Homo sapiens: one gene and its partners. The protein of the gene in region 3 purifies or fractionates together with the protein of the main gene of each other region. This does not show direct contact. Each region holds a gene or a part of one and is shown on either strand. Other genes may lie near its edges.

Region 1 (3,500 bases), on a different chromosome or scaffold from region 3:
GTGGTAGCAGCATTTACTCAGTCAACACTGGAGCATCCCTGTACTGTCCAAGGTTGTACATTTAAAATCCAGCTGGGAGGTGAGAGATGATGACTTTAATGGCTGCTCCATAAGTGCCATGTCATGGCACAACCATGCTCACAAGAAACAGCCTCTGTTTGCTTCTGGCTGAGGTGATCAAGGAAAGCTTCAGAGAGGAGTTGGAAGACTAACTCTATCACAGTGTACAGATTGGTTCAGGAGACAAGTCGAGCCATCCATTTGAAACAGGGGAACTAATGTGACCACTCCAAACCTGTCTTTTTCCTCACACCAGCTCTCCTCCATACACTGTGCCCTTGCATCTGTCCCTAGTGGCTCCAGCCTTCAAGTCTCTCAGACCCGAACACCCTAAATTCCCTCTTCTAAAAAGCCTTGTCCTGCCTGCCTACAGATGCTTCCTTGGCTATTTTCTGGGCCACTGTGCTAGGCCGGACTTTTATCACCTTCCCCCATCACCATCCACCCGTTTTCCTTCTGTAATAAGCCAACCCTTTCCCAAAGCCCCTCACCAGGAAGCCCTTTCAGACTACATAGGTCCTCCCAGTCTAGTTTTGTCTGCACCAGGGTTCTGCGCTGCCCGACAACCCCCACCCCAGTCTGCACCCAGCTTCAGCCACAAACATCCCAAATGGGTGAGCCTGGCAGGAGGGGGACACGGAGGTGTCCTCAACCCCCATCTTGGCTAGTCTCATCCCAGTCCCAGCACTCACGGATCCTTCCCCAGCCCGCTCCATTGCGAGAGGCGCGCAGAGGCGCGCGAGGTCCAGAGAGCTGCACTGGCCTGGGGAGCCGGCTGGGTCCGAGGGCCGCGGGAAATCGGAGGAGCCAGGGCGCCAGCATAGCTGCACCGCCTCCAGCTGCAGCGCTCAGGACGCCGGTGACATCAGCTCCCAATTGCCGCGAGAGCAACTGAGGGGTACCAGGGCGCTGGAGGTCCCTCCGGGCACCTGGCTGGGCTTGGCTCAAGGCGGTGCCTCCACCGAGACTCCATCGCGGCGGGACCGGACCTCCAGGAGTGCGCCCGCGCCGCCCTGGAAAAGGCTCCTGGCCTTCACGACGTGCTCCAGCTCCGGGAGGCCCCTCCCGCGTAGCGTTTGCCCTCCAAGGTGACCCCTTGCCTGAGAGTATGGAGGGCGAATAGTGTATAAATTGGGAGAGCTGGGGCCCTAGGGAGGTCACTGGGCCCAGCATGGATGAGTGGGACCACGAGTCCAGACACCTCCTCTATTTCCCTACTGATCTCCAGCCCCAAATCCACTCTCCCAAGGCCCAAGGCCGGGAGCGCCCTAGGAAACTGGCTCCCACCCTTTCAGGCAGAGGAACTGGGAATCCTGGCTCAGGATCTGGACCCTTGTGCTTCTAGCGTTTCCCCAACCCAGGGATAGTTCCTTGTTGCCCCCTCCCCACCCAAACACACCCTCTCCCCAAGCGGGCAGCATTTCCCCTGGGAAAGAGCGCAGAGCTGGGTGTCAGCTGGACCCGGGTCAGATCCCAAGGGGCTAGAGGATGAGTCATGGGCCCCACACACATTAGGCCCCCTGTTGATATCCCTTCCACCCCTCCCACTCTCTTAAGTCTCTGACTTCCTGCTCTGCTTCTCACTACCCTTTTTTCCCTTCAGAATCTCCACCAGGGCTAAGTACAAATCCTGGTTTAGGGACTTGACAAGCCCACAGAATTTGACCCCTGGAACCTGAGTTTGTAAAATGGGGAGTATTCCACCTCCTTCGTAGCATTGTTTGAGAATTATATGGGAAAGTCTCATCTCTACCTGGGCCTAGCACATATTTTAAAATAAGCCCCCTTTACTTGCAACTTGAGTCACTTCCTCCAGAAAGTCTTCTTGGATTTACTCTTCCACGACTATCTCTTTTGCCATTCCCTGAAACATCAATGGGTCTCTCTTTTGAGGACCTGCTGAACTTGGTTGAGAAAGAACACAGCACCCTCAGCCACTCTCCTAAAGGAGAGTGACCAAAGTGAAACTAAGCATCTCCTCTGCCCCAGAACTTGAACAGGCCTTCCACAGAGAAAATTTACATTTTTTGGAGGAGGGTAGGATGCAGAATTTAAACATTTACATACCTAGACCAGCTCTGTCCAATAAAACCTTCTGCGGTGATGGAAATGTTCAGTAGCCATCTAGCACTTGAAATATGGCTACAGCAACTAAGGAATTAATGTTTTGTTTTATTTTAATGAACTAAAAGTAAGATTTAAATAGCCATATGTAACTGATGTGGACAGTGCAGAGGACTATGAATGGCAAATAGGTTTTATCTCATGCACTGATGGAGGATAATTAGGTAGAGTCCCAACGAGTTCACTGGACACCTTTCCACAAATTAGAAAAAGCTGACCCTCTCCAGGCAAACAAATTAGATAAACGTGCTCCCTCCTGATGCCGCTGAAACCAGACCAGGACTCTCACCTCTGGCTGGCACCTGTGTGAAGGACACAACCTGCACAGTTTATGCCAAGACGGTCCTGAGAAAGATTCTGAGGCCAGGTCTGGGCTCGTTGATAAAGAGTGCCAAAATTGACCAGTAACATCTACTATGATCCAGGGAGTGGGGGCAGGGCTTGAGGGGGGACAGCACATACAATATCCTGCCATTCCTGATCTAGACTCTTTGCAGTCCTGCCTCTGACCTCTCAGCAGCAGCCCCTGCCTGGTCCAGGCAGTCACTTCCACAACTTCCTCCATCTTCCCCATCTCCGTAAACAGCCACACCACCCAGTTGCTTAGCCACATACCTGGGAATCATCCTGGAGTTCTCTTTCTTTGCCCTCCCATCCAATCCATCAGCAAATCCTGTCAGACCTACCACCACCATTTGAAATCTACTCCCTTTCTCCACCATGAGCATTTTAATTCACACCACCAGGTTCACTCCCACCTGAAGTGGGAGTGAAACAGCCTCCCACCTGGTGGACATTTGCGAACTCTCTTGCCAACCCTCCACCCCCAACCCTACCCTCAACTTCCCACCAGCCTATTCTCCATAGCAGCCATCATTTAAAAACATGGCATGAGTCATTCCCTTGCTTAAAACCCTTCCATGGCCCAACATCACACTTAAGGTGAAATCCAGGTGCCTTATCATGGCCTTCAAGGCCCTGCATGATCTGGCCCCTGCCCATCAGCTCCACCCCAACTACTATATTCCAGCCACACTGGCTCTCTCTTTCCCACAAATATATTACCCTCATCCTCATATCAGGGCCTTTGCCCTTCCTCCAGTCTTCACATATCTCCAAATCCTCCTGGGCTTAGCTCAAAGATCTCCCAACAGAGGCTTCCCCTGACCTCCACATCTAACATTGCCTCCCTCATCTGATTTTCATTACATCCCCATTTTCATCATAATTTCTTTATGTGATATTATTTATGTGTTCGTATGTATATTTCTGTTCTCCCACTACAATGGAACTTTCTTGTCTTATTCACTGAGGTA
Region 2 (3,500 bases), about 44 Mb from region 3:
AATTATTCAGAAAAAAAGTATTAAATATCTTTAAAGATAAAGATTTTTGGCCAGGCACCATGGCTCATGCCTATAATCCCCCATTTTCGGGGACCAAGGCAGGAGGATTGCGTGAGCCTAGGAGTTCAAGATCAGGCTGGGCAACATAGGAAGACCCTGTCTCTCTCAATCAATCAATCAATCAAATTAGCCAGGCATGGTGGTACACACTTGTGGTCCCAGCTACTCGTAAGGCTGAGGTGGGAGGATCGCTTAAGCCCAGGAGGTCAAGGCTGCAGTGTGTTGTGATAGAGCCACTGCACTCCAGCCTGGGTGACACAGTGAAACCCCCCTCAAAAAAAAAAAAAAAAACAAAGTAAGATTTTTCATATTTTACTGTTTTTTGGCCAAATGGATGTGAAGGAAAATACATTCTCTATATTACATATTTTTTTAATCTAGCTGCAAACTTGTATTAAAGAACCAATTTCAAAGTGTATAAAATAAACTGATTAACTCAAACCTATACAACTCTTACGCTGATCAGGTCCTTTGTTTACATTAGCAGTACTATCTGTTTACATGAAGATATGTATACAAACATTTTACAAGGAAACGTAAGCACAAAAAGCAGCAAAAGAAAGTACACACAACCCTGGCACTACATACATCATACTTATCTGTGATTGTCTATCCAAAGCTTAAAGAGGGAGGATAAAATAGTTAAGAAGGATAGAAAAGCTAGCTTTCCATATTTCCCGCATCATCTCTGCTTGGCATTGTGAGTTCCTTGTTTTCCAGAATATTATAAATCCCAGAACAGTACAAAATTCAAAGAAATTTAGAAATGGAATTTAGAGGTTGCCTTTTCCAGGTAACCTAATTTAAAGACGTGAAGACTGAGCTCCAAAGTCATTAAGGTCAAGACCACATTTCAGTTCCTATGACTTCCCCACTACAATCCTCTCCTCTTACCACCTACAGAGATGCAAGTGTCAATACCAAAATATAATTAAGAGATAAATTCTTTCTGGTAACCTGCCATTTTTAACACCAACCAACATTTGTCCAGGAGAGGAATAATTTAAGAGTTATATATATTTCACTTCACAATGGAAGCAGAAACAACTGAAATTCTTTAGGTCTCCCTTCTTGCAGTGAGAACTTTCCAGAACACAGGATTAGGAATAGTCAAAGGGCTGACATGTCTTTTATTGGCATTCCTATCTTTCCACTTCCCATGTGAACAAAATCCACCCCGATAACCCTGTAACCTCCTTTACATACAATTTGATCAATAACCACCTTTCTTCATCTGAGAAAGAAATGACAATGAAAAACTATAGCCACCAACACGAATCACTTTCCTACTTCAGACTCCTATCTTTTCCTCCACTCTGAATATTCTAAATATAGTTTATGTTCCTGGGGTTTCTCATCCTGCTGTCTTTGCAAACTGTAAGTTCCAAAGGCATGTTTCTGCTGTTTTATTATGTGTGTGACAATGGGAGTAGTAACTCTGACTACTTCATGAATGAATAATGTATGTGAAGGTACTCTAAATTGTAAAGTTTAAGATAAAAGTAGTGCCCCTATCCTATTAGAATGATAAATAACAATACAAACAAGTAAAAAGTTTCTAGGAAATTACAGTGCACATTAGGGATTTAACTAACCTTAAAAGAAATTAGTCTTCTGACATTACCCAGAAGATAAAGCAGTAGCACCTAACATTCAGTACATCATATATTTATCAATGGTTAGTTTTTTTAAAAGTTTAATGAGTGATATGCAACACTATGCTCAATTTTAGGAGAAATTACTTCCATAATATTATAAGTTATTTATTGCTACTTTTGGACACAATTACTGGCTATGAATACCAAAATGATTAAAACCTACAAGTTTAAAAATGTCTTTAAAGTAAAATTATTATAGCTTTCTTAATATTGTCTTAATTTTCCAGAGAAACCTACTTAGGCATTAGACATGGCACTCAAATAAAATTCTAATTTGTTTAAGTAAACATAAAAGAAAACCTAATCAAAATGGCTCGTAAAACAAAAGAAACTCACTCAATGTCTTCCTAACAGCTTAGTTCTAAATTAAAACATACATACTCAGCCCACACAGAATAAGATTTTGTACTATCAAATAAACATTCATCCAAGAATGCACGCAAAGAAATTAAAATGTTATTGAAAATTGAAATGTTACCTCTGTTTTTATAAGATGAGCTAGGCTTAATGTACAGTAGTCAAAATTACATTGAATAAATGACCTGAAATGAAAAAACTGTTTTTCTTCACATATACCATACTACTAGCTTGACAAGAAAAGAAGTATCCCTTTTCGTGGCAATATCAACTCACTTTAATTTAGGATGGAAATAACCAATAGAAAAACATTTGATGACTGCATTTCACTCAAGTATTTTTTTAGGCCATCTAATAATGTATAGTATAATCTCCAAAGAAAAGATTTCACCCAAAAATATTCACAGAAAGACCATACCATGAAACTATTCCATTCCTGTATCTTCTGCTTTCTCTATTTCTACATCCAAAAGCAAGCATTCCTAATACTTATAAAAAAGCCCTTGACGTTTTATCTAAGTATCTTTCTAAAAGATTAAAGAACCATACAGGTAATTATAATTTACTGGAAGTATAACATGATCTTAAAAATGTCACAGTAAAAATAACTTTCTAGGCTCAATGAAATAAAGGTAACTTTAGCTAGGTATCTGTTATTGTTTATAAACTACTGAAGTCTTAACCCAGTTTGGCATTTCAGCATTCTCTTTCATGTCTCAGTTTATTAAAATTAAAGAACAAATAAGGTTAAACAATAAAAACAAACTCTTAGGTAAATAGTTTCTAATATAAAAATAAAAAGACAAAACCACCCATATTTTTCGTTGGGGGATTAAAATTTTTCCTACATGATGTTGACCTCCAGCTTTGTATTTGTCTCCAAGTAGTACTAAGTTATTAAGTTTGAACATAAATTAGTTTAATATTCTAAAGAACTGGTTTTAAGATTGGGACTGACTGGTCATCTTTTCTCTCAAGCTCTACTAAAAGCCTTTTTTAAACAAACATATCAATAAAACATCTTGACTTAGACATATTTAAATAAACTGAGGCAAAAATACAAACAATGCTCCAATATATGCTCATGAAATATTCAGTAACTATTTCTATTTTTACTCCCTGACCGTCATTGTTTATCAAATTGTGCCTAGCTTTACATCACTTTTGCTACCTATAAACAGCCCTGGTCAAAATATACATGAACAAGGTTCACTAAAAAAAAAAAAAAAAAAAAGATGTTCACGTAACTCAGATTTTTTTTTGTTTGTTATCTCTCAGCACAGATAATCAAAGATCAAAACTTTAAGTACCACATAGCTAATGACCAATAATCCTCTATTACCCAGGAATATACACAGAAGCACCAAAAAAAAAAAAAAAAAAAGGTAATTGTGGTCATATTCTGATGAAGCTGGACGATTCCAA
Region 3 (3,500 bases):
AAATGTCTAAGGCCTCGTCCCTACTACAAAGAAACTTGGGGCCACGTGCGGTGGCTCTTGCCTGTAATCCCAGCACTTTGGGAGGCTGAGGCAGGTGGATCACTTGAGGTCAGGAGTTTGAGACCAGCCTGGCTGACATGGTGAAACCCCATCTCTACGAAAAATACAAAATTTAGCTAGGCATGGTGGTGGGCACCTGTAATCCCAGCTGCTTGGAGGCTGAGGCATGAGAATCACTTGAACCTGGAAGGTGGAGGTTGCAGTGAATTGAGATCATGCCACTGCAGTCTAGCCTGGGTGACACAGTGAGACTCAGTCTCAAACCAACAAACAAACAAATAAAAAAACCAAAAAGAAACTTGGTAAGGGAGATAAGAGGGAGATGTGTAATTAATAACACATAAAATATGGTTAAGTACTGAAAAACACATAGACAATGGGTTATGCAAGTTTAGAGGAGGTAAAAATTCTACTGAGAAGGCTCCACGGAGGAGGTGGCACTTAGCACAGAAAGGTGGATTGCATCAAGACAGGCGACACAGAGGGATGGAGTGAAAGTCATCCTGGGTGGAAGAAAGCAGTGTCCTAACCCTTAATCATAAAAAATATATCCGGTGTAGTGAAATGGTTCAAAGACCTGAGCTTGAATCCTCACTCTATTACCTGGGTGATAAGAGTAATTACCTCCTATGAGTGGGGATGAAGTAAATAAATGCTAAGAAACACTGCAATTTAATATATTGTCTTCATCTTCATCCTAGACTGTCAACAGGGCTGTGAATTTTGAAGCCAGCCTTGGTTCGGAAGGTAGGCAGAGTTCACATTAAGCAGAAATGAAACCATGACACCTTTTTGAGGGCAAGGGTCAGAGGGGATAAAGACACGAGACACAGCCAGACACAGTAGCTCACATGTGTAATCCCAGCACTTTGGGAGGCCAAGGCAGGAGGATCACTTGAGCCCAGGAGTTTGAGACTAGCCAGGGCAATGTGGTAAAACCTCCTGACTACAAAAAATACAAAAATTAGCCAGTGTGGTGGCATGCGCCTGTAGTCCCAGCTACTCAGGAGGCTGAAGTGGGAGGATCACCTGATCCTGGGATGTCGAGCCTGAAGTGAGCCGAGATTGTGCCACCGTACTCCAGCCTGATGCCATGTCTCAAAAAAAAAAAAAAAAAGTGATGCAAAGCAAAGCCTGGGGCCCTCTGCCCTGCTGGGAGGCTGGACTGGCTCCCTTCTAGCCAAGAAGTGCTCAACTCTAAATGTGAAAAATTCTGAGTCCCTTGTGGCTCTCCTGCTCTCCTCCCTGAAATGGCGGCTTCTCTGTGTGCTCTTTCCAGCCAAAGAAATCTGATGTTTCTGCTAGTGACTGACCTTGTTTACGAAGTATCCAGGTGTTACCCACACCAGTCTTTAAAAGCATCTGAAGAAAGAAAATGAGAAGTAATGGCCACAGAAGTACTCTGAAATTTCTGCGTAGGGGTACGCGGAGAAGAAAGAGAAAATCCCAGTCCAGGATCTAGAAGGAGCTCCAAGAACTCATGGAGTCCTCAGAAAGGGGTGGTATCTACCAACAAAAGCAAAATGGAGACATGGTGGCTTTTAAATAGGCCAACAGGTACACGGACAGAACTTGCCACCTGCCCATCGCAAGACCATCAAGCTTAAATTACCTGAAATGCTTGAGGAACATGATGTTTTGGTGAATTGAACTTTATACTAAAATTAGAAAACTCTTGCTCCTTCAAATCTTACTGCTATAAACTTCCAAGAATACATCATTCCATTTTCCTATTGTACTAAGGAAAGTATACTGAACATAACTGAACAGCTTATTTAATACTTATGCATTTATGTCAGGTACCAGGCTAGACAGGAACTAGAGATACAGGGGTAACAGAATGTGTTCCTGAGTTTACTGGAACTCACTGGATATTAAAGGGTAATACAGAGAATCTCAGCCCCACAAAGAAATGGAGCTGCAGGCATAGGTCATTGGGCTGAATGATACTCATTAATGGTGCCCATTGTACCAAAAGGCACAAATATTTATATCAGAACAGTGCCTATTAGCCCTGACACGATTCTTAACCAGAGACTGTGATCTGAAAGGTGTTCATTTTCATGAATGGGGTATGTTCGTTTAAAAAATGATTCCTACATGGATCAGATATTTGTGTTTGGTATTCCTCCTTCTGTTGAGATGTCTTTTTGCATTGAAATCACTGCTGGTCTACACGGAGCCCAAAACCTAACCATGTTTGTTCTCTTGCTTTTGCTCTGACACACACACACACACACACACACACACACACTCTGCCCATGGAAGGCATCCTTTGGTTTTCTTCTGAGTCATTTCTTCTTGATAAAAACTATCGTATCGAATGCTGGAAAAATTATCAGTTGAAGACTCTTCTCAATGTGACCACATTTTTCACTTGGAATGCTTCACACCGAGTTGAAATGTATTAGTGTTCCGAGGAAGAATGCAATGATTCAGAAGGTGTTTGTTCTTACTAGGAAATAGATTCCAAGCTTCTTGCTCTCCACTCCAGGATTTCAACCTCCTCCAGGCCTCTGCTCAGAGACCACTTTAGGATCCACAGCTTTTCTTTGGTTCGACAACGTGCTGTTCAGTGCTGGATTCTGACTGGAACCCTGGGAGCTGATGATGGTCTTTGTTATCTTAGTCTGGACTCTGGTTGCTGTGACCTTATAGTCTAATTACAGTGACGCTTTGGACTCTCTTCCATGGGGCAAGTGGCAAACAGACTTGCAAAGTCTGGACTTCCATGGTGGAGTCTGAGACGCGCGAAGCAGACAGAAAGCCAAGGCACCACATCCGCAGCTGCCCCTCGCTTGGCTGCGTGATCTGCCTGAGCTGTTTTAACCTCACAGTCCCAGCTGCCTCGTCTGCCAGATGGATATAACACAGCCAGCTTGACCTGCCTCCTTGCTCGTTGTCAGATATAAATGAGATGATGTGTGTGAAAGTGGTTCATGTTTAAACACTGTAAAAAGTTATTCAAATGGATTGGGAAGGGGGACTTTATTTTCACAAAATTGGCTTGAGTCCCTTGTGCTCACCGCCCACCTCCCACCCCCACTACTCCTTGGACCCTGAAGACAGGAGGCCTGAAGGATGATGGATGGGATATGCTTTCAAGCTGTCAAGGCTATAAAATCACAAGCTGCTGAGTGGAACACACGGACTGCCACGGGCTATGTGGAGCGAAGGCGGGACAGAGCCCTGTCCTCTCTACCCAGGGGAAGCACACGTGCCTACCTTCTTGCCTTCTCCATATATAAGGGGGAACTTCAAGTCCTCATCCTCAATGGTTTTGTATGCCCTGTAGGGGATAAACAACATTTTAAAAAAGGTTTGCACTCAATTAGTGACCTGCTGCCCTGACACCGACTGCTAGGGATTTCATTTTCCCTGAGACCCCATCCACTCACCACACTGACTACCTCTTCCTTTATAGGGAGTTGTTCTCCCTA
Region 4 (3,500 bases), on a different chromosome or scaffold from region 3:
AACTGATTTCGAAAACATAATTAACAACAACAACAAAAAAACCCTAATGATATAAAGGTTTCCTTTTAAATAAATTTGAGTTTTAAAAAATTATCTTGATTGTGGCAATGGTTTCACAGATGTTATATATAATGCCAAAGCATATTAATTGTACTTTAAAATATGCACAGTTGGCCGGGTGTAGTGGCTCATGACTGTAATCCCAGCACTTTGGGAAGCCAAGGCAGGAGGATTACTTGGGCTCAGGAGTTCAAGACCAGCCTGGGTAACATAGTGAGACCCTGTCTCTGCAAAAAAAATTAAGAATTAGCCAAGTGTGGTAGCACGCATCCCAGCTACTCAGGAAGCTGAGGCAGGAGGATGACTTGAGCCCAGAAGGTTGAGGCTGCAGTGAGCTATGATCATGCCATTGCACCACAGCCTGGGCAGCAGAGCAAGACTCTGCCTCAAAAAATTAACAACAAATAAAATAAAATAAAATATGTGCAAGTTTATTATATGTCAGTTATATCTCTATAAATCCATTTGTTAAAGGAGAGTCAACATAATGAAAATACCAGATAAATAATAGTGCACCCAATACACCCATAGAGCAAATGTCGTGAAACTGAGTGTTAACGAAGGGACCCTCTCTTTCTTGGTTCCTGATCCAGCACTCTTTTCACCAAACTAAATTGGCTCTGTTAAGATGATATTAATAATAAACTGAACACCTTCAAATCACAATATATTACTGCTTTGGTAAAATAAAGAATGAATCCTAATTTATCTACTTAAATTTTGGATTTTTTATAGACTGCTTCCTAAAAGAGGACATAACTACATATGATTTGCTATCTTAAAAAACTAAGGTATTATTTCTACTATCCTTGCAACTCTTCCGGTAAGTGTATAGTTTTTAGTACAGTATTTGAAGTAGGTGAAAAAAAATAAGGTTAATTTCCCAAAGAAAGTCCTTCAGTTTTGCAAAAACTTAAAAGCATTAAAAAGTGTTAATGATCTAAAGTTAAAGTTTTCAATCTTAGGACTGTGCTAATTAGGACCATGGGTCTATACATGGGTGGTAAAATGCTCAACACTGATAGTAATCCTTGACATTGGAAACATGTCACCTTATACTCATAAAGCATTTAATATGCCATGTAGCATCCCATATGTAGAGTCTTGTTTCTACATCTCAGCCGTGTGAGGTTGCCAGGGTAGGCATTATTTCCAGATTTTACAAATGAAGACACTGAGGAGATCAGGAATAAAATGATTTATCAAAGCTATACAGCACAAAGCTGGAGCCAGAACCCAGGTCTTCTCATTCCCAATCCTGTGGTTTTTCTCCTACATTCTGGAAGTACTGGAGAACTACCTAGAAAGCCAACTAACACCACAGTAGTTTCTATTGAAAAATGCATTCAGGTTCCAAAATATTTACATAACTGACCATTTTTAGAACATTATCCGTTAGTATTTGGTAACTGCTTAGCTTCTCAATAATGTGTATATATGTGGTTGAACTAGTTTCCTTAATTTTATTTAACATTTTTCAGTGCAATGGTACTATGGTTTTTTTAAATCTCAGTGTCGGTGCTTGAAATACTTAACTATCTCCAACCAGAGAAATTTCAGAACAAAAGGATAAAATATGCCTAATACACAGCCATATGTAACGTCTCAGCACACTACAAAAGTTCAAGGTAATGACTGCTAGTGGATAACTCCTATCTTCTTCCACTTTAAGACAGAACAGAAATGAGATCACAGAACATTCTCCTCTAAAACACCCTTCTGCCCAAAAGCTCAGCATTTTCCTTCCCTCAAACCGCCCAGATTTGCTCATTACGAGAGTCTCAGTGCAAAAACTAAACATAGACCCAGTCCCCAAATGATGGGCACACTACCATCTTCTCCCCTGCTTGGGCCCACACCTCTTGGAATGTGTTTTTACTATAGCACTGAGCCCAGTGTTTCAGAACAACATCCCAGCCTGTTTTCACAGCCAGCCTAAGAGTTCCTCAAGGAATGGGCTGTCTCATTCGTCCCTTTACCTCTTAATTACTCCCCTTCCACCAAACAAACATGTATTCATCAGATGTTTGAATGAATGCTCAGAGAGAATCCAAGAGAATAAAAAGTACTTTATATCAACTAACAGCTTATTTTTCCTTTCCTTCCTTGACTAAATATATTGTCCACACCAGTGACACATTAACCCTTTTAAAGCATACTGGGTCTATTAAATAAGATCCACACCTTCTTAGCCAGGCCTTGAGGCCCTTCCGGCCTACCTTCCCCGCTTGTCACTCACTATTTTCCTGACACACACCACACTCAAAGTTCCAATTATCTTCCCATGCATTCAAATATTTCATGAGGGCCTACAAAGTATCCATGAATCAGGGACACAACTGAGCTCAAGTCCCCCTCCTTAAGGCAGCTCTCAGCTCTCCATCTGTGCCCCCTGCTTCCTCACCTCCATGTTGCCCCTGTGACTAATCCCTCCACCTGTTCTTGAATATTTGAATGATAGCTGTTTGCTCCTTGAAGGGAGTGACTGTATCTATTTACTGACTGCACAGTAACATGCAGATTTTAGTTGCTCAAAAAACATATATTAACTAAGTGAATAAATACTCAAATAAAAAACACTAATCAATTCATTCAGCACCTTAAAAAAAAAAGGCAGTCCATTAGCAGTCAGCTTCTGCTCCATATGAAAGAATTCCAGCCTGCTTACCTTTAGTCTTCTGGGCCCGTCTCTGGCAGAACCCTTCCTTTTGCTCCTGGTGAGCACAGTGATAACCTTATCCAACCCCCTTTCAAGGCTCCCAAACACTTTGGCTCCCTTTCTTTTTGGAGTCTCCTCCATATGTGCTTGGTTGAGATCCAATTCCACTGAGCGGCACCTGAAACAAAACATAAAACAAGGCACAAGTAGAGCTGGGCCTCCGGCCTGTGGGGTCCACAAGGGTGAACTTTTGTCCCTTCATACACATTAGGATGCCTCACTCAGGTATGCCAGGGCCAGATCACCTCTCTCTTCCTCAGGAAGCACCAAAGCCATCTCCCCCTGGACAGGAGCTGTCACACTTCTACCAGGCAACTGCCACTCAGCAAAACTATTTATCCCCTTCCTTTTTAAAAAAGGATATATATATCCTTTTTTCATATATATAGAAAAGTTCAAAGAAGAGTACAATGAACACCGGTATATCCTCCTAGATTCAACAATTGTTCATATTTTGCCACATTTGCTTTCTATTTGGATATAGATAATATATTAATGTACATATGTATATAGATATACACTGATATATATACATCAATGTATATATCTATATATACACATAAATTTAATGTATGTAGATAATACATTAAATTTACTTATTTGCTAAGCCATCTGAAAGTAACTCATCTGAACATATCATGACACTTTACTCTGAAACACTTCAGTATACATCTCCAATGAATAAGGATGTTGTCTTCCATAAAGACAACACCATAAAGTG
Region 5 (3,500 bases), on a different chromosome or scaffold from region 3:
TCTGGCTTTAGCCTGCCCAGCCCAACTGTGGGACTCTGATGTTCCAACCTTTGCAGGGAGGGGACTTGAAGAGAACGGCCAGGCAGTGGACTCAGCTGGACGGTGCACAGAGTCCTGAGGCCTGGGTGGACCAGGATGGAGAGGGCCTCCCCTCCGGCTGCAGGCCAGTAGGTGGGCCCTGATCCTAGAACACAGCCCCAGGGGATGAGCCTTTCCCAGAACTGCGGGCCAATAGAGAGGTCTCAGCACTCCAGGCACCTGCCCTGGCAGCCTGCCTTGTGGGCCCTGCTGGTCCCCAAGATGTCCTGTCCTGTCACTCCCTCTCTAGAGCTGGGGGCCTCGCCTCAGCCCCAGCCCCAGCCCAGGCACTCACAGTTGGATTTTGTGATAGAGACTGGTGATGCCCTGGTGTGTCCAGTCTTTCCCCAGCTGGGGCAGGATATGGCCCAGAGCATCTGACCTAGAGTGAGAGAGGAAGGGTTACTCCAAGGCAGCTCCACGTGGCCCAGCTCCAGCCCCAGGATGGCCCACCAGGAAGGGAGGGCTCCTCTCACTCCCCACCACACCCAGCACAGAGGGAGGCGAGTCCACAACCCCTCTCCCTCCCCTTCCCACAGCTGGGTGGGCCTCACTTGGTGATGGTGCCGTCGATGTCAGAGATGACCACCTTGTCGTCCCATTTCCACAGGTAGATGGTGGCCTTGCAGCGGCAGGTGCCCTGGTACTGAGTGGTCACGCTGAAGACCACATCATTGGCACCTTCTTGCAGGTTCAGGCGCCGCTGAGGCCAGACAAAGGGGGGTGTGTCGTGATTGATGACAGCCAGGCACTGCCTACCTCTCCCCTTACGCCGTGGCCTCCGATCCCCTCGGGCCTCTCATTCTCCTCTTCCTCCCAGCTCAGAGATGCTTCTTGGATTCATCAGAGATAGCCATGCACAGACACATCCATGTGGGCAGAGGGTGGCCATGCTGATCAGGGCCCTGTCCAGTGCAGGCCACAGGAGCCCTAGCCTCCCTTCACTCCCCTTTGAGATGTAACCCACAAAGCCGCATCCATGACTCCCTGCCCAGGATTCCCAGGCCAGCCCCAAGGCTGGGACTGCTGTTGGCAGGAAAACACCCCCCTCCATAGATGGGGGTCCTGTGGGGATCTCCATAGGAAGCCCCTCCTTGGGGCCAGGGTACCTGAGTCAACATTGTCCTAAGGAGAGGCCTAACCCTGTACTTGATCCATAGGGAAGGATCAGGGCCGCTTCCCACCAAAGCCCTGAGTTGAGTGTGAGCTCCAGGGTACCAGACAGATGGCAGCTGCTTTGTACTGGCTGGTCAGCCCCTCCTGGACACTTCCCTGACCATGGAGCCACAACCATGAAGAAAATATGTTCTTATTCCAGGAGCCACCAGTTACTGAGCTTAGAGAAGAGGTGACTTGGGGCCAAGGGTTGCCAGAATCTGAGGGGCTGTCATTAGCATTTGATTCTTTTTAGTGTTGCTTCCAAGGGCTGACCTAGAGCCTGCTGGCTCACTACAGGTTGATATCTTAGGAGGACCTAAGAGACAGCTTTCCCGGTGTCTGACAGACAAATGGGCTGTCATGAGAAGTGAGCGCCCTGCCCTTGGAGGTATTCAAGTGGAGGCCATCAGGGAGGCTCCCAAGGGGATAGATTCTGGCCTTTGGTGAACATGTGGCTCCCTGGAGCCATTTCTCAGCCAGGTCCTGAGGGACTCTAAGACAGAATTAGCTCAGCCCCTCCCCAACCTCCACACAGACAACCCACACTTACGATCTGATCGGAGGAGAGGCGGAGGGACTTCTTGTAGGTAGGAGTGGAGGGTGGAGTGGAGGGTGGCAAGGAGGGGATCTCCAGGATCACAGGGCTGTCTGGGGCATCGTCATCACTGCTCAGGACTTCTGTCTTCTCCCTGTGGACCACACTGGCTCTCAGGCCATCTCCTCCAGCCAAAGGGCCTTCACTCCCGGGAGATGCCAAGAGGAGGCTGGACCTGTCCCCGCCATGCCAGGGCCTACCCAGGGTATCAGTGATCCCTCCCTCTAGGTGCAACCCATTTGGAGTGGTGGCAGACACAGGGGTGCAGGCTGGCAGTCTCCACCCAGCCAAGTGACAGCAGAGGGTGCCGAGACCCAGGGTTGCCAGCCCTCAGTGTCTGCCTTGGAGATATTTACCTGAAATACCTAAAGTGTATCTCTGGGCTTATTCCCAACCCCACCTGCTTTGGTTTCAGTCAGGCCATCCTTAGCTACTCTCCACCCAGCCTTAGGCAGCTGGGTCACTTCAGATGTGGAAAAGAAACAAAGTCAGCTGGCTTATTTGGGCTGCGAGAGGCCCTGCCCCTCCTTAATAGGGATCCCCTTGTCTGGGGCAGGAGCCTGAGGACCTGTGTCAGCTCTGCCATTTCCTGGTTGTTGGCCAGGAAATGTGTCTCTAGGCCTCATTTTTCCCATCTGTAAAATGGGGCCATTTCTCAGGAGAAAGAAAAGGTATAGAAGTGCTTGCGGTGGCTCACGCCTGTAATCCCAACACTCTGGGATGCCAAGGTGGGCAGATCACCTGAGGTCAGAAGTTCAAGACCAGCCTGACCAACAGGGTGAAACCCTGTCTCACTAAAAATACAAAAGTAGCCAGGTGTGGTGGCGGGCACCTGTAATCCCAGCTACTCAGGAGGCTGAGGCAGGAAAATCGCTTGAACCCGGGAGGTGGAGGTTGCAGTGAGCCAAGATCGTACCACTGCACTCCAGCCTGGGTGACAGAGCCAGACTCTGTCTCAAAAACAAACAAAAACAACAAAAAAAGAAGTGCTTGGTGCTTGAGGAATGACAAAAAAAAAAACCCACAGCTGGAGACAGGGTGCTGGCTCCTCCCTGCCACCCACCTGCACCCAGGGCCATCTTTCCCAGGCTCCCCCTGCAGAGCCCCAATAGGGGGTCTCACTCACCCCTGCTGCTCCTTGGCTGCAGTCTTCTCCTTCTGGGCACTGCGCTGTGGAAAGAACATCCATTAGTGAATCCCACCTCCCGCCCTGTGCTGGCCCTGGCCCTGGCCCTCGACTGTGACCACCCACCTCCTCGGCCAGGAAGTCCCTGCGTCGCCAGGAAAACCACCATCGCCCACCCTTCCGGGGCATCTTCTCCCTCTCCAGCTTGTCCATGGTGCTCTGTGGGCAGATGAAAGCCATGGCAGTGTTTCCTGCACCACATAAACCTCCTACCTTACGTTGTTCTTGGGACCCTCCACGCATGAGCCCAGAGTCTGAGCCAACCCTAGGGTAAGGTGCTGTCAACATCTGGAGGCCAAGGAAGTGTGCTCACCTCCATCCTGGGATTCCAAGCAATGACTTGGGTGAGCTATACTCAAAAGACCAAGGGCTATTCCTGCCCCCAGCCCCGGTCCCTAGCTCTAACCCAGCCTCAGCCTGGCCTCCAAATCTTGTGGATCCATTCCTTTACTAGAGTAGTTAAAAGCAATGCTTTGGGAGTTT
Region 6 (3,500 bases), on a different chromosome or scaffold from region 3:
TAATTAAAATAATCCCCCAGCTACTTGGGAGTCTGAAGCAGGGGGATCACTTGAGGCCAGGAGTTCAAGACTAGCCTGAGCAACACAGCAAGAACCTGTCCCTAAAACAAATTTAAAAAAAATAATTAGCCAGGTGTAGTGGCATGCACCTGTAGCCCAGCTTCTCAGGAGGCTGAGATGGAAGGATCATTTGAGCCCATGAGTTACAGGCTGTGATGAGCTATGATTGTGCTACTACACTCCAGCCTGGGCAACAGAGCAAGACCCCATATCTGAAAACAAATAAAATAATCCTATGTGACCAAAAACATAAAATGTTCATACTCAAGAAATGAATCAGCTGGGTGCAGTGGCTCATGCCTGTAATCCTAGCACTTTGGGAGGCTGAGGTGGGAAGACATCTTGAGCCCAGGAGGTCAAGGTCATAGTGAGCTATGATCACACCACTGCACTTCAGCCTGGGCAACAGAATGAGACTCCATCTCTAAACAAATAAACAGTTTAAAAAAGAAACCAATCAACCTCAGAAGACTAAGAAACAGGTATTTAAAAAACTCATAAGGCACCTGGCCAACATGGTGAAACCCTATCTCTACCAAAAATACAAAAATTAGCCAGGCAGGGTGGCAGGCACCTGTAATCCCAGAAACTCAGGAGGCTGAGAAAGGAGAACTGCTTGAATCTGGGAGGCAGAGGCTGCAGTGAGCCAAGATTACGACATTACACTCCAGCCTGGGTGAGAAGAGTGAGACTGTCTCAAAAAAAAAAAAAAAAAAAAAAAAAAACCCGCTTAAGGCAGAACTAGAATAGCCAAAACAATCTTGAAAAAGAAAAACAAAGTCAGAGGACTTGACTCCCAGTTTCGAAACTTAATACAAAGGTAGAGTAATCAAGACAGTGTGGTACTTACATAAGGAAAGACATATATACATTGATGGAATGGAATTGGGAGTCCAGAAACATACTGTCACAGTTATGGTCAATTGATTTTGACAAGGGTACCAAGACAATCTAATGGAGAAAGAACAGTCTTTTCATCAAATGGTTCTAGAACAACTGGATATCCACATGCCAAAGAATGAAGTTGGATCCCTACCTCATACCACATTCAAAACTCCAACTGGATCAAAGATCTAAATGTAAGAGCTAAACCTATCAAACTCTTAGAAGAAAACAAATGAAAATCCACATGATGTTAGATAATGGTTTCTCAGAAATCACAGCAAAATCACAAGCAACTAAAAATAAACTGGACTTCATCAAAATTTAAAACTTTCATGCATCAAAGGACACAAGGGAGTGAAAAAGAAACCCATAAAATCAAAATATTTGCAAATCATCTATTTGATAACAGAATGGTATACAGAATGTATGAAGAAGTCTTACAACTCAGTAATAAAAAGATATAGTTTTTGAAATAAGGGGAAGATGTGAATAGAGATCTCTCTCAAGCTATACAAACGGCCAATATGCACATGAAAAGACGCTCAACATTATCTACCAGAGAAAGGCAAATCTAAACCACAATCAGATACCACCTCATACCCACTAGGATAGCAATACTCATGGAGAGAGACAAGAACAAGTGTTGGTGAGGATGTGGAGAAAGTGGAACCTTCATGCATTTCTATGGGAATGTAAAATGGTTCATATGCTTTGGAAAACAGTTCCTCAAAAGTTAGTTACTATATGACTCAGAAATTCCACTCCTATACATATGCGTATCTGAGAAAAATGAAAACACATGTCTACACAAAAGCCTGTACATAAATGTTCAAAGGAGCATCATTCATAATAGCCAAAAATTGGAAACAAGCCAAATGCCCATCAATTGATGAATGAATACAAAACACAGCATATCTGTGTAACAGAATGTTGTTCAGCTATAAAAAGAATGAAGTATTGATTCATGACAAAACATGGATGAGCCCTGAATACATTATACCAAGTGAAAGAAGTGAGATACAAAAGTCCACATAATATAGGATTCCATGTATTAAATGTCCAGAATAAGCAAATCCATAGAGTCAGGAAGTAGATTAGTGGTTGCCAGGGGCTGGGAAGTGGGAAATGGAGACTGACTGCTAACAGTTACAAGGTTCCTCTGTGGGGTGATGAAAATGTTCTGGAATTGTATACTAATAATGGCTGCACAAGTCTGTGAGTAAACTAAAACCCAGTGAATGGTACACTTTGGGGATGTGACTTATATCTAAAAACCAAGAAGAAAAAACTCGGAATGGATGACCCCAGTACCCTCAATAGATAGAAAATACAGTTAGGGTCCTTCAACCACATTCCTACACATTCACTACTCAGAAGACCCCAGCTCACCCAATTCCTCCTACTTTCAATAACCTCACATTCTACCCCATCAAGAAAATTAAGCTTGAAATTCCTGGGCTTTCCCATTATATAATTATTCTCTTCCTCCCATATTTCAAAAACTTCTATCTATTGGCTCTATCTATACAAGGTTCAAATATCTCCCCAAAACTTTTTTTTTTAAAAAAAGGTACCTACCCCTCCAGGTACCACTCTGAACCCTCCCCTTCTACCTGGAGTTTCTCAGAGGAATGTTCTTGAGACTCGCTGCCTCCATACTGGCACGCCCACTCACTCCTCAGCCCACTGCCAATGCCCAATACCAATTAATTCGTTTCAGTGAAATTATCCTGAAAATGAACACTGACCATCATAATGCCAAATCCACTGAACACAATTCTGTGTTAATCACGCGGCCATTCCTGTGACATGTGATTGCTTTCACCTTTCACTCTTTTGACACATTTTTCCTCCCTAGGCATCCACAACATTGCTTTCACCTGATTCTCCTGAGGTTGCTCTTCTTGGCCTCTGTGACCGCCTCTGTCACAGACACACCTGAGGTGCTCTATCTTCTACCTACAGTAATGACTCCGAAATCTACACCTACGTCCAGTCCCTTCGTTTCAGACTCATATTCACAATGGCCTTCTGGATCCATCCACCTGGCTGCACTTCAGACACCTAAAACTCAATTGTGCTGAGTTGCTTCCAGGCACACACTGCATCTTATTCATAGTTGCAGGCAGGGTACACAGCACATAAGCACTGACGACACACTGTTGACTGAGACTAGAACTCATCATTTCCCACACCTCCACCCTAAAACCTGCTTCTCCTGTGCTTCTGATTCAGTTAATGACACCAGCATTCACCTAGTCATCTAAATCAGAGACTTTGCAGCGGATTCCCCAAGTTCAGTGATCCTCAGATGCCGACACAAACCCACTGTATGTGCAGCACCCATCTGGATTCCTCCACGTCACCCCGGTGGAACTTGGAGCCAAGGGGCCTGCTTGTGCTGTCTTCTGTGCTGTTCTCAAATTCCACCCCCATTTCTTTAATTCATGATTGGCTGCCATCAGTGCACTAGGTACATATATTCTTCCAATGAACTCACATGTGCATCTTATTATCAACAAGACTGGGAGCTCCTTTGATGGAAGATCAAGACT
Region 7 (3,500 bases), on a different chromosome or scaffold from region 3:
CTAAAAAGTTAAAGGGCCTATAGCTATTACTTTTACACTGCACTTAGTTTTGTTTGGTTGCAATACTTTTCAAAGTTCATACAACACAGGGTAGAGAATGTTTGCTAGTGTTTTTAAAGCATGTTTTAAAGGATGTTTATCCATTCCTATGGGTTAATCCATAGGATTTATGGATCAATCAACAATCCATAGCAATTATTGCAAATAGTAAATTTTTATAAAGTTTTATAAAGTTTTATAAACTTTTATAAAATATAAATGTTTAAAGAACTCCTAATATTATTAAATGGTAAAAAGAAATAACATGACCCTGGAATAATAACTATGGCCGAACAGTTTTTACTGACACCAGAAAAACTTGTATAGTGGAGTATAGACTACTGTGTATTCAGTAGATATTACATAATTTGATGGTGATTACATGCTGCTACTTAGTTTTTGAAAGACTTTTCAGTCTCAGAATAAATTGCCAAACTTCCCGGAGTATTTTAATTTCTATAATTGTCAGGCAGGATTCCCTTTGCTTTAAATTGTTGCACTCTTATAAAAGACTTAATTAGCTAGTCACTAGCCTGGCCAAGTATTTGTTACAATATGACCATTATCATAGTTATTTAATTACTATAAAGTGAAGAGTTTGACTGGGGTCTAGAATGTGCAAACCATGGTGCCTCATACATGGTCTTTATCCTGAATGTCTGATTTTATTTGTTCAATGAATAAATGCAGATTTGAAATTCTCTGCTGATATATGAAGCTATGACTTCTTGTTTAGACTTTTAAGTATAACAGATACTCTATTGCAGTATGTTTTGTTTGATTTTATTGGATATTTGCTAATGGTGGTAGTGAGTTAGTGATAACGTAAACAAGGTTTTAAAAATCAATATTGAATTTTATTTTCACTCCGAAGTGTACTCATGTACCAAAGAGCTAATAGAAGACTACTTGGAGCCAATTCAGTGGAAATTACTGTTTTAAACAAATATTTAAATTTGTCTAGAGAATATGTTACTCTTGACAGATTTTCTTTTATCTTTTCTAGTAGATCTTCTCAAGTTTTATCATATCTTGTGAGGGAATGTCTGTGTCTAGATAATAGCTGATATGTTGTGAATGATATAAACAACTTTGTCCCTTTTCTAACAGGTAGCAACAGGTTGAAAGTTGTGCCAAGTTAGCAAGCTTTAAGCAACATTTATGTTTTAAATAAATACTAGGCCCTGTAACTCCCTTCTGGATGCAAAATAAGTAGAAAATACTTTATATAAGTCTACCTATAGGCACCCCCCAGAGAACAATACAAGGCAACTTTGAGTTACTGTGAAAATCGCCAGTGTTATGCGCATTTACAGAAGAGAGAAACATTGTGGAGAGCTGGAACTCATTCAACACTGTTGGAATGCCCACCCTGTGCCAGTCACTTCTGGGCCTCAGGGACACTGGCAAGCCAGACATCAATGACAACAAATCTGCCATCATAGAGCTTAGTCTAACGGGGAAGATAGATGGCAGTCACGTAATAACAAATAGATTAGAAAATGCCATCAAGAAAATTAAGCATGGTAAGGGGTGGAGAGTGGTAGAGTGGAGGATGGGGGTGCTGTTTCACACAGGGGCTCTCCAGGGAAGGCACTCCGAGGAAGGACCACGAATTCGTCAAGCAAAGACCCAGGCAAAGGAAAGAGGAAGCAAAAATGAGCCTTCCATATTGGAGGCCTAAGGAGAAGGCTGGTGAGGAGAGGCATGCGTGGGGCAGGCCTGGCAGGCCTCCCTCTGCTGTGCACATGGAGGTTTCACTTGGAGTGATGGTGCTGGCTTCTGTGAAGAACGGACTGCAGTGGGCTCAAGTGATGGCTTTCAAGGTTGTCTATATGAGAGGAGGCACCGACTCTGCCCAGAGTGGTAGCAATGGAAGTATTTTGCAGGGAGGTTACCAGGGGGCAGTGAAGATAAAATACTGCAATATAAGAATTCCCAAGGATGGTTTGAAATATTAGAATTTTGTTTAAGAGTTTTATTTATCAAATTGCAGAAGTGCAAGATTGAAGTAAGATTATGTGGCATCATGTATGGTTTCCTTTTTCTTTTTTGATGTTGCTTATTGTGTTCTATTTTTTTTTTCTTAAGAGGAAATAAACTTTCCATGGGGAACTGAGCCACAAATTATGGTAGCTACTTACTTTTATACTTTTTATGTCAGTGATTAAGCATTTATTATCTCAATTTTTTTAGTCTTTTAGGAATAATTATTATCTATCTACAGTATTATTTACAACTACAATAGTTGTATTTATTATGAAATGCCATTTGGAGCTCTTACTATGACAAACTGCAAAAGGAATATAAATTTTGTTTTAGCTTTTTTTCATTAGTACTGTGTAAATAAAAGAACTATCTGAGAAAATTATGGAAAATGTAATCTCCAGATAAGATGTTTAAATAGCTCATCAGAGTGATTTGGGGAAGCTACTAATTTCACTATTATCAGTTGTAAGACATAAGTTCCTTCTCTCTTCTGTTCTTATACTCAGGACATGTAGCTTCATGCTATAGCTGCTTCCTATTCCAGGAGGCACAGAGAAGTCAGTCCAGATGTCCCAATGGTAACTGAGATCTACATCTGCTTTTGAAACAAAGTTAGTGAAAGATTAGACTTTTAGAAGAATGGCAATCACAAAAGAGTCACCACATCTTCCCCCATCATTTTCATGTTTGCGTATTAAAAAGTAAGTAGCTGGCCAGGTGTAGTGGCTCATACCTATCTATCATCCTGGCACTTTGGGAGGCCAAGGTGGGAGGATCGCTTGAGCCCAGGAGTTTGAGACCAGCTTGGGGAACATGGTGAGACCCTGGACTACAAATATTAAAATTAAAAAAAAAAATAGGCAATGTCTTATTTTTTTGTAGTTGTGAGGGGTATAGCTAGTTAGTTCTGAATTATGCAAAGTATCCGTATTTGATCAGTTTTGTAATCATTATCAAGTATATCAAAGCAGGGTAAAGGAGACAGAGGAAAGTATTTATCTGCTCTACCCATTTAAGAAGGTCATTTGTAAGCCCTGCTTTTTCACACTAGCATTTAAGTGCTAAACCTACCAGAATAGTGCAGCTAAGGGAAACAGCATTGGCTTTTTTGTGTGTGTTTTTGTTTTTTTGAGACGGAGTCTCGCTCTGTCCCCAGGCTGGAGTGCAGTGGCACGATCTTGGCTCACTGCAAGCTCCGTCTCCCGGGTTCACGCCATTCTCCTGCCTCAGCCTCCCGAGTAGCTGGGACTACAGGCGCCCGCCACCACGCCCAGCTAATTTTTTTTTGTATTTTTAGTAGAGATGGGGTTTCACCGTGTTAGCCAGGATGGTCTTGATCTCCTGACCTCGTGATCCGTCCGCCTCGGCCGCCCAAAGTACTGGGATTACAGGTGTGAGCCACCGTGCCTGGACTTTTTTTTTTTTTTTTTTTTTAATACAAGGTCTTGCTGTGTAGCCCAGGCTGGTCTCAA

What was found.
Region 1: the proteins of PPM1H (region 3) and RTKN purify together in Homo sapiens (affinity purification with mass spectrometry, with the first as the bait; one large-scale study listed by BioGRID). This does not show direct contact.
Region 2: the proteins of PPM1H (region 3) and PLEKHA5 purify together in Homo sapiens (affinity purification with mass spectrometry, with the first as the bait; one large-scale study listed by BioGRID). This does not show direct contact.
Region 4: the proteins of PPM1H (region 3) and MELK purify together in Homo sapiens (affinity purification with mass spectrometry, with the first as the bait; one large-scale study listed by BioGRID). This does not show direct contact.
Region 5: the proteins of PPM1H (region 3) and LPIN3 purify together in Homo sapiens (affinity purification with mass spectrometry, with the first as the bait; one large-scale study listed by BioGRID). This does not show direct contact.
Region 6: the proteins of PPM1H (region 3) and KIF13B purify together in Homo sapiens (affinity purification with mass spectrometry, with the first as the bait; one large-scale study listed by BioGRID). This does not show direct contact.
Region 7: the proteins of PPM1H (region 3) and MAP3K21 purify together in Homo sapiens (affinity purification with mass spectrometry, with the first as the bait; one large-scale study listed by BioGRID). This does not show direct contact.

Annotation. Positions count from the first base shown.
Region 1 is NC_000002.12:74,435,438-74,438,937, forward strand, and holds part of RTKN (rhotekin), read right to left. Parts: intron 1-3,500. UniProt on the Homo sapiens protein: Mediates Rho signaling to activate NF-kappa-B and may confer increased resistance to apoptosis to cells in gastric tumorigenesis. May play a novel role in the organization of septin structures.
Region 2 is NC_000012.12:19,132,733-19,136,232, reverse strand, and holds part of PLEKHA5 (pleckstrin homology domain-containing family A member 5), read right to left. Parts: intron 1-3,500.
Region 3 is NC_000012.12:62,690,651-62,694,150, forward strand, and holds part of PPM1H (protein phosphatase 1H), read right to left. Parts: intron 3,350-3,500; coding exon 3,286-3,349; intron 1-3,285. UniProt on the Homo sapiens protein: Dephosphorylates CDKN1B at 'Thr-187', thus removing a signal for proteasomal degradation.
Region 4 is NC_000009.12:36,670,395-36,673,894, reverse strand, and holds part of MELK (maternal embryonic leucine zipper kinase), read right to left. Parts: intron 2,898-3,500; coding exon 2,729-2,897; intron 1-2,728. UniProt on the Homo sapiens protein: Serine/threonine-protein kinase involved in various processes such as cell cycle regulation, self-renewal of stem cells, apoptosis and splicing regulation. Has a broad substrate specificity; phosphorylates BCL2L14, CDC25B, MAP3K5/ASK1 and ZNF622.
Region 5 is NC_000020.11:41,354,321-41,357,820, reverse strand, and holds part of LPIN3 (phosphatidate phosphatase LPIN3), read right to left. Parts: intron 3,177-3,500; coding exon 3,084-3,176; intron 3,002-3,083; coding exon 2,958-3,001; intron 1,926-2,957; coding exon 1,787-1,925; intron 782-1,786; coding exon 633-781; intron 461-632; coding exon 374-460; intron 222-373; coding exon of another isoform or gene 1-221. UniProt on the Homo sapiens protein: Magnesium-dependent phosphatidate phosphatase enzyme which catalyzes the conversion of phosphatidic acid to diacylglycerol during triglyceride, phosphatidylcholine and phosphatidylethanolamine biosynthesis therefore regulates fatty acid metabolism.
Region 6 is NC_000008.11:29,253,071-29,256,570, forward strand, and holds part of KIF13B (kinesin-like protein KIF13B), read right to left. Parts: intron 1-3,500. UniProt on the Homo sapiens protein: Involved in reorganization of the cortical cytoskeleton. Regulates axon formation by promoting the formation of extra axons. May be functionally important for the intracellular trafficking of MAGUKs and associated protein complexes.
Region 7 is NC_000001.11:233,330,724-233,334,223, forward strand, and holds part of MAP3K21 (mitogen-activated protein kinase kinase kinase 21), read left to right. Parts: intron 1-3,500. UniProt on the Homo sapiens protein: Negative regulator of TLR4 signaling. Does not activate JNK1/MAPK8 pathway, p38/MAPK14, nor ERK2/MAPK1 pathways.